Homo sapiens: one gene and its partner. Changing the gene in region 1 together with any one later gene gives a genetic interaction. Each region holds a gene or a part of one and is shown on either strand. Other genes may lie near its edges.

The links. Genes that interact genetically often act in the same process or in processes that back each other up.
Region 2: changes in FAM89B (region 1) and ARID1A together harm fitness more than expected from each alone (negative genetic interaction), as found in Homo sapiens cells (one large-scale study listed by BioGRID).

The regions. Positions count from the first base shown.
Region 1 is NC_000011.10:65,571,412-65,576,466, reverse strand, and holds FAM89B (leucine repeat adapter protein 25), read right to left. Parts: upstream 3,930-5,055; 5' UTR 3,798-3,929; coding exon 3,507-3,797; intron 3,115-3,506; coding exon of another isoform or gene 3,105-3,114; coding exon 2,826-3,104; 3' UTR 2,277-2,825; downstream 1-2,276. Other genes in the region: EHBP1L1 (EH domain-binding protein 1-like protein 1), read right to left, coding at 61-164; protein ZNRD2, read right to left, coding at 4,733-5,055. UniProt on the Homo sapiens protein: Negatively regulates TGF-beta-induced signaling; in cooperation with SKI prevents the translocation of SMAD2 from the nucleus to the cytoplasm in response to TGF-beta.
Region 2 is NC_000001.11:26,775,823-26,779,309, reverse strand, and holds part of ARID1A (AT-rich interactive domain-containing protein 1A), read right to left. Parts: intron 288-3,487; coding exon 1-287. UniProt on the Homo sapiens protein: Involved in transcriptional activation and repression of select genes by chromatin remodeling (alteration of DNA-nucleosome topology).

The DNA of each region.
Region 1 (5,055 bases):
AAAGGGCCGGATGAGGTCCCAGCAAGTTCGGGGGAGCCCCCCCGCCTCCCTCCCACTCACCATTTCTTGGTGCACTCCAACACTAGCTCGTGGTAACAGGCCACGAACTGGAACTTGGCCGCCCGCTTGCCCACGCGCTGCAGGCGCTTCCACACCGAGGTCATGGCCCCCGCCACCCCGCCGCCCACTTCTCAGGCCCGGGGCTCCCGCTGGCCCGCCACCGCTGGCCCGGCCCGGGTCCCCATGGCCTGTCCGCGCCGCCCGCCCCGTCCGTGCGGAGGTGTCCCAGGCTCCGACCCGGGACCGCGCTCTCCGCTGCCGCCGCTGGGGCCCGCAGGGTGGTCTGGCTGAGTCTGCGGGGTCGCCTGGGGCGCGTCGGGTGGCGAGCGCGGAGCTGGGAGCGCGCCGTTTCCTGGAGCCGCACCCCCGTCGGAAGGCGGGCGGGGCTCCGGCGCGGGGCGGGGGCCGGGGCAGGAGCGCGGGGGCGGGGCGACCCGGCTTCCGGGGCCTCGCGCCGCGACCCGGGAGCGGGAGCGGGGGCGGGGGAGGGGGGCGTGGAAGGGGTGTCGCCCGACCGCAGTGCCCGCTCGGTGCGCGCAGAGGCTGCGTGGAGAGAGGGCAACCAGCAACTTGGTGCCACCCTAGAGAGCGCTGCCCGGGCCGCCTTCCTTCCTGCCCGCAGCCCTGGGAGGTACGTACTACTGGCCCCCTTTCAACGGCTGGGAAAACTGAGACCCAGAAAGGGGAAGGGACTTGCTCAGAGTCATACTGTGAATGTGGACGAGGACCAGCTCTCAACTCCAAGGTGCAGCCACCCACGTCTTAACCAGAGCAGGAAGGCGTCAGTAACCTCGGTGGCCCAACCTCAGAACCTGACTCTGCTGTCAAGGGGGAAGATAATCCCAAACCCCGACAAGTAGCTGGAGAATCATAACTGACCTCCAACCAAGTGTGACTTTGGGCAAAGCGCTAACACTCTGAGCCTCAGTTTCAACGTCTATTAAATGGGGATAATTGTAGTTCCGCCTTTTAGGGAATCCCTGAGAGGATGAACCTCAGAAGGCATTTAGCAGAAAGCCTGGCTGATTTTGCCATGCCTCCTTATTAAATGGGATGCGCTATAATGGATGGGGAAAACGTGTCATTTTTGTGTATGTTTACTCTCCCTCCCCAGGAAAGCCTGCCTGGAGCGTTAGCAGCTGTGAACCCCTAGATTAGAGCCCTTATCGCCTACCCACCCGCCCTGCATGGTAATGAGCCTCTGCAGGTGTCAGCTGCCCTGGGGCAATAGGTCAGTTTGTTCCTTCCCGCTGCTCTGCAAGGTGTGTAAATGGACAGGAGCCCGGTGCGTGACTGCTACTTGGTTTAACGGGATGTCTGAGTGCCAGGACTGCCATCTGGGCTGCATCTCCAGGAGGCAAATGGCTGCAGCAGGGCGCGGGGATGTGCTGTTCGTCCGCACACCTCGGTGTGCGGCTTCACCTCTTTTCAGGAGGTTGTGAGGTGTCGTGTGCGCGTGTAGGGGGCTGAGTACCCACTGTCTCCGAACGTGCTGGCTTCTTCCGGTGGGCTTGACAACTGGGTTTGGTTCTCAGTCCCAGCGGTGTGGGTCCCCGGTTTCCTAAGAAACCTTCCACAGATAACTGTAAAGACCGCTAGTGCTGTGGGGAGAGCCGGCGGTCTTCACAGACTGAGCGGGGAATACGGGTCCCTGGAACCCCAATCAAACTTCACCGCCGCGGAGTCTCATGCTTGGCCTCCGGGAAGGCCCGAGGTGCCGCGACTTCACTCCCCTCGGCCTCTGCCACCCCTCCCTCCCACCCGCGGGGCGTGAGGTCCCAGGCCGTTCCCGGAGGCGCCTCCCCCGCCCCCGCCGGGGCCCCTTGCTCCGGCGACTCCGGCCACCCATTTCCTGCGCCGCCTCAACCCCGCCCCGCGCGGGGTGGAAAGTTTCCCTCCTCAAGGTGGGCGGCTCCTTCTCCTTCCTTCCCGGCAGGCAGGGAAAGCCCGAAGCGAACTGGGAGGAGGGAGCGGGGGACTCGGAGGTCGCGGGCGAGAGAGGGGAAGTGACTCGACCGCAGTCACCCGGCGGCTGAGCCAGGCTCGGCCAGCAGGCAGCGCCCCCAGCCCCGCCCCGGCGGGACGGCAGGGCCTTCACTCGGCGCGGGGCGGGGGGGGAGGGGGTCTCGGGCGCCACCTGCTGGCAGAGCGCGGGGCCGCACCTGCCACAAACACCGCGGTCTTCCCGCCCCAGAGCCAGCCAGGCAGAGCACAACGACGCTGAGTGTATTTATTTATCTACGCGCCCTGGAGACCGGCCCCTAAATTTAAATATCCAGCACGGGGCCTTGGCCCTCCTGGCCGTGGGTGGTTATTGGGACGGGTCCTGGAGCCCTTCCAGGGCAGAGGAACCCAGAGCCCGGAGGTGGGATGCCCCTGAGCCAGCAGCTGCCGATAGCAACAAAAGGTGAGGAGGAGATGGGAGCCAGGCACTCATCCCAATCCCAGAGACGCCAAGCGGAAGGGAAGATGCTTCGGGCCCCACCGCAAGGCTGAGGGTTGGCCAAGCTGGGGGTGCACACATGTGGAAGAACTGGAGGCCCAGTGCCATGAGCAGAGGCTGTACCCTAGATGCCCGCCCCAGTGCCAGCCAACCCAAGACAGGAGAAAGAGTTTGGCAGTTTCGCCTCTGAGGAATACATGCCTGGCCCTCCTGTGAGGTGAGGCGGTAGGGGGGAAGGCGCAGGCTCCGAAGTCTGAGGGCTTGCCGGAGGGGGAGTTTCTGAGCCTTTTGCATGGGTGCATGCCCCCTGCCCCCCAGCCCTTCAGAGGCTGATGTGGAAGGCATCCTGCAGCCACTGGTCACGGGCATTGTGCGTCTGGGGCACAGTAAGGGGTGGCGGGTCAGGAGGCAGGCTGGCATCGGGAGGCTCCTCGTCGTCAGACAGGCCCGCATCCGGTGGGTAGGAGCTGTCCGAATGGAGGGAGGATGACAGGTCCTGGCAGAAGCTCAGGTCTTGGCACAGGTGTTTGTAGTCCTGGATTGACTCGTACAGGCCCCACAGCTGGCACAACAAGGACATGTCCAACTGCCGCAGCCCCACCTGCAGACAACTGAGGGTGGGCTGGAGTTGGGGTCCAGGCCACCCCAGCCCAGCCCCGCCCCCTGGAATAGTGGGCCCCAGCCCATCTTCCCCGCACCTTCCTAAACGAAGTTTTTGTGGACATCAGGCACCACCTGCAAGCTATGCAACTTTAGTCATGACCCTCACCCAAAAAATGGGGTTATCCATTTAGCCGGATGAAATGAAGTAACGTCAGCAAAACATTTGAAAATATATGGTAACTACTGCCATAATTGGTAACTATCACTAATTATTGTTACCATAACCCTTGCAACCCAACTGGTGCCTGCAAGTCCTCTGAGACCCAGGCCGCCTGTCCCAGTCCCCTGCGTTCCTCCGCGTCAGCCCCCCGCCCAGCTGGCCCGGCGCCCACCCACTCACCATCTCCTTGCGCAGCGCGGCCAGCGCTGAGTCGAGGTTGACAGGACGACGCGGGCCGGCTGCGGGTCCCGCGTTGGCGGCGCCGGCGGCGTGGCGGGGCCCGTCCGGGGCGCGGGCGGCGCGGCTCAGCTCGTCGTGGATGCGGCTGCGCTGGCTGTAGACGCGCTCCAGCTCCCGCCACGAGCCCCCGCTCGCATTAAGGAGGCCGCTGAGGCCGCGCGGCAGCGGTGGGAGCCCGGCCAAAGCGCAGCCCGCCCCGCCCGGCGCCTCTGCCGAGGGCAGCCCGTTCATGGCCGGGGCCGGCGCGGACGGCGATGCCACCTCCTTCCCTCCAACGCTCCGCCCGGGCCGCCGCCCGCAGGCCCCGCACCCCGCGGCCCCGCCGGAGCCCAGCCGCCGCCCGCAGGCCTCGCTTTGTTCCTTCCCCAGCTCCTCAGACTCCGCCTCTGCCCCACCCCCTCTGGATGGGCCGGGCCTCTCTTAAAAAGGCAACGGTTGTGGGACCACGTCGCGCAAAGCTGAGAAAAGGCAACGGGACATCCACTCACTCAAGGGGAGATGGAAAAATGCGGCGGAGGGGGGAAAAGGCTGAAGGGGGCAGGCGTGGTTTCTTCACGGTTCTTTTTGCTACCCCGTCTCCCCGCCGCGCCCCGCCCCGCCCCCACACCCAAGGAAAATGATCTAACAGTGGAGTCAGGAGACTGGCAAGTCCACACTTGGTGCCTAACGTGCCACCTGACGCTGGGGTCACCACAAACTCCTGTCGGTGTCTGAGTACCTGGGGTGGGCATGAGATGGGATAGGCTGATAGGGTCAGGATGCTCAGGGGAAGGAGGGGAATCTATCAAGGGGATCGGAACACAAAACCTCACTTCCAGGTGGGGAATGGACACCAGATGGCGGAAGAGGCTGCAGAGGTGCTGCCAGAGACAAGGCTAGGGTCCACCCCTCTGGCTGCTACCTTTGAAAAGGCTATGGCTTCTTCCTTAGAAAAGGGGCATCACATAGTCCTCTACCTACTCCCTCATCCTGACTGGGGAAACTGAGAAGAAACAAGCTCAACTCATCTCAGGGCGTCAAGGAGAGCAGAGTGGAGAGGTGAAGAGGCCAAAAGCTGGAAAAAGGTGAGTGGAGCTGGGGCTGGCATGCACACTTGGAACCAGGAAAAAAACAAACCACACAGAGGAACAGCTGTTTTTCTAGAGGGTTTTTCTCAGGGGCTTCTCTTAGTGCTGTAGCTGCTGCAGGCTGCGCAGGGCCTCCGCACATGCGCGGATAAGGCCACACAGCTGGATGCTAGTCTCCAGGGAGGTGCTAGAGCCCAGTTCAGCAGAGGCCCAGGTCAGCTTCTGCAAGAGGGCTGTCTGTGTGCAGGCCATGACATCTGTATTTGGAGGCACAGCAGGAGCAGGTGGCCCCTGGGCTGCCTTGAGTCCTGCTGCAGCTCCCTCACAGTGCTCCGGACGAGGTACTGGGGGCTGGGGCGCAGGTCGAGAGCCCAGGGGGAGCTCTGAGGCTGAGGCCAGCTGGTGCTCCCGAGCTTGGGAGA
Region 2 (3,487 bases), on another chromosome or scaffold:
TTCTCCTCACTATTCTCTGAAGCTGGCTTGTCCTTGCCTGAAAAGGCTATCTCCTCATCATTTTCAACTACTTCCTCTTCTTCTTCCTCTTCTAGTTTAGGACCTAGAAGTTCTTCTTCTTCTTCCCCACCCTCCATGGGAGCTGGACTAGACACCTTGCTGAACCTCCCAGGATCCAGTAGCGTTCTCTGTCCTGGGTCACCCACCTCATACTCCTTTAAAATGCCAAAGATCTCAATCAGGCATCGTCGGAAATATTCTACAAGGAGCTCTAGCAACCCTGGGAGCTAAAAAGAGAAAGAACAGGAAATAAATTAAGGGAGAAAAGTGGCCTAAGAACAGAATTATTGACTTGAGAGACCTCCCCAAGTCTTCTGTATCAGTTGGGAGAGGCAGAGTTGCTCCTTTCCCAAAGGTTCTCCACAGAGCAAATTGTTCATCTTAATCTCTTCTATGCCCAACACAAAGTTCTTTCTTCTGCCCAACCTACCTTCACGTAAGCCTATCTCCAGGAACACTAGCCAACAGCTTTGCACCTCACCCACCAGGGCCAATCATCTCTTAGCCTTCTCTTTTCCCAATTAATCTTCTGCTTTTCTTCACCAGGCCAGTTTTCAACCTGGTGGTCATTGCCATTATCTCTTTTAGGACACTCTCTCCATCTCACTGCCAAGTGGAACCCAAGCTTAGGCATGGTGACTTAAGCTAAGAGAAGAGAATGCCATGTGGGCAGATGTTCATGGCTCTCTTCTCCAAGCTCCCCACAAGTCCAGGGGGCTGGAACTCCATGGATCTTGCAGCATAAGGAGTGGGACGAGGCTTCAGCTCTCCAAACACTGGTCCAAGCTGGTGCTACAGAGACCCAAATTCCACCTTGGATAATATATAGGCCATTTATTTACCTCTAGAAGAAAACACTCCTCTCCAGTCACAATCTTTGGCTGAACAGTAGAGCAGATGGAAAAAAAAATAAGGGCTTTCGAATTAGATCTAGGGGCTGGAAGCAGTGGCTCACACCTGTAATCCCAACACTTTTTTTTTTTTTTGAGATGAAGTCTCACTCTGTCATCCAGGCTGGAGTACAGTGGTGTGATCTCAGTTGGCTGCAGCCTCCGCCTCCTGGGTTCAAGCGATTTTTCTCCTGCCTTAGCCTCCCAAGTAGCTGGGATTACAGGCGCCTGCCACCACATCGGGCTAGTGTGTGAGAGTGTGTGTGTGTGTATTTTTTTTTTTTTTTTTTTGAGACAGAGTCCCGCTCTGTTGCCCAGGCTGGAGTGCAGTGGCACGATCTCAGCTCACTGCAACCTCTGCCTCCTGGGTTCAAAGTGATTCTTCTGCCTCTGCCTCCCAAGTAGCTGGGATTAGAGGTGTGTGCCACCAGGCCCGGCTAATTTTTATATTTTTGGTGGAGATGGAGTTTCACCATATTGGCCAGGATGGTCTTGAACTCCTAACCTCAAGTGATCCACCCACCTTGGCCTCCCAAAGTGCTAGGATTACTGGCGTGAGCCACTGCGCCCAGCCTAATTTTTATAGTTTTAGTAGAGATGGAGTTTCACCATGTTGGCCAGCTGGCCTCAAACTCCTGACCTCAAATGATCCTCCTGCCTCGGCCTCCTGAAGTGCTGGGATTACAGGCGTGAGCCACTGCACCCAGCCAGTAATCCCAACACTTTGGAAGGTTGAAGTGGGAGAATCACTTGAGCCTAGGAGTTTGAGACCAGCCTGGGCAACACAGTGAGACCCTGCCTCTATAAAAAAATAAAGAAGTTATCCGGGGCCTGGAACGGTGGCTCACACCTGTAATCCTAGTACTTTGAGAGGCTGAGGTAGGTCAATCACTTGAGCCCAGGAGTTTGAAATCAGCCTGGGCAACATGGTGAAGCCTCATCTCTCAAAAAAAAAAAAAAAAAAAATTAGCTGAGCATGAGCATGTTTGCACGCACCTGTAGTCCCAGCCACTTGGGAAGCTGAGGTGGGAGGATCACCTGAGCCTCGGAAGTTGAGACTGCAGTGAGCTGTGATTGCACCACTGCACTCTAGCTTGAGTAATGGAGACCCTGTCTCAAAATAAATAAATAGCTGGACATGGTGGCATTTGCCTGTAGTCCCAGCTACTCAGGAGACTGAGGCAAGAGGATCGCTTGAGCCCAGGAGTTTGAGGCTGCAGTGAGCCATGAGGGCACTACTACACTCCAGCCTAGGTGCCAGAGTCTCTTAAAAAAAAAATTCTGGCTTTTCCAGGAAGTAGCTGTATAAAATGATAAAAATTCCTAAACTTTACAGGGTTGTTCTGAGGTGTAAATGGGAGATGTCAAATACCTGGCATATGAAAATTGCTCTATCAAAATTTTTCCTTTCTCATGGTAGGCAATATTATGCAATGGAAATAAAATCAGGCTTAGGAATCAGATAGATTCTACTGACAGCTATGTGAACCTCAACAAGGATAAGACTGAGCCTATTTACTCATCCCTAAATGGCCATACCTCCTACCTCTGAGGGCTGTTGCTAGGATGACATGAAACAAAATATTAAGGACCTGGCACAAAATAAGAGCACGATAAATGGTAACTATTAATAAGTCAGCTCCTTGATATACAGGTTGGTAGGTACTAAAGATGATCAAAAGAAAAAGAGTAGGATGATGCAGCACAAACTCTTTCCAGCACCTCCACTAGTGTGCACATCCTATGGAGGGTGGGTCTGAAGAATCAGCTTTGTAAGAATATTGTAGGGCCGGGCGCGGTTGCTCACGCCTGTAATCCCAGCACTTTGGGAGGCTGAGGCGGCTGGATCACGAGGTCAGGAGATCGAGACCATCCTGGCTAACACGGTGAAACCCCGTCTCTACTAAAAATACAAAAAATTAGCCGAGCGTGGTGGCGGGCGCCTGTAGTCCCAGCTACTTGGGAGGCTGAGGCAGGAGAATGGCATGTACCCAGGAGGCGGAAGTTGCAGTGAGCTGTGATAGCGCCACTGCACTCCAGCCTGGGCGACAGAGAGACTCAGTCAAAAAAAAAAAAAAAAGAATATTGTTAAACAATCAAATCCCCCATCCACTCTACATCTAAGGAAAACTGGGATCAACAAAGGCCCCTACTGTTCAGAGAAGAAAGGGAAAAATGGAAAAAACATACTCTGCTCACTGATAAAAATTTGACCACAGATTCAGGCTGGGCCTGGTGGCTCATGCCTGTAATCCTAGCACTTTGGGAGGATCACTTGAACTCAGGAGTTCATGAACCTCGGCAACATAGTGAGACCTCGTCTCTATTAAAAAAACAAAAAAACACAGATTCTTCTAGAAAATGTGGTGTCCCCACTGGCATCGATTGAATCTGAATTCTTACTAATACCACAAAGTGTCTCCCAAATTCCTTTTGAAGTCAATCCTGTGTTAAGGTTATCATGTAAACAAATTATTATTGCTGTCAAAATCCTGGGCCCGTGCCCAGAGGCAAAGGAAGCAAAGTACTGGCATGGA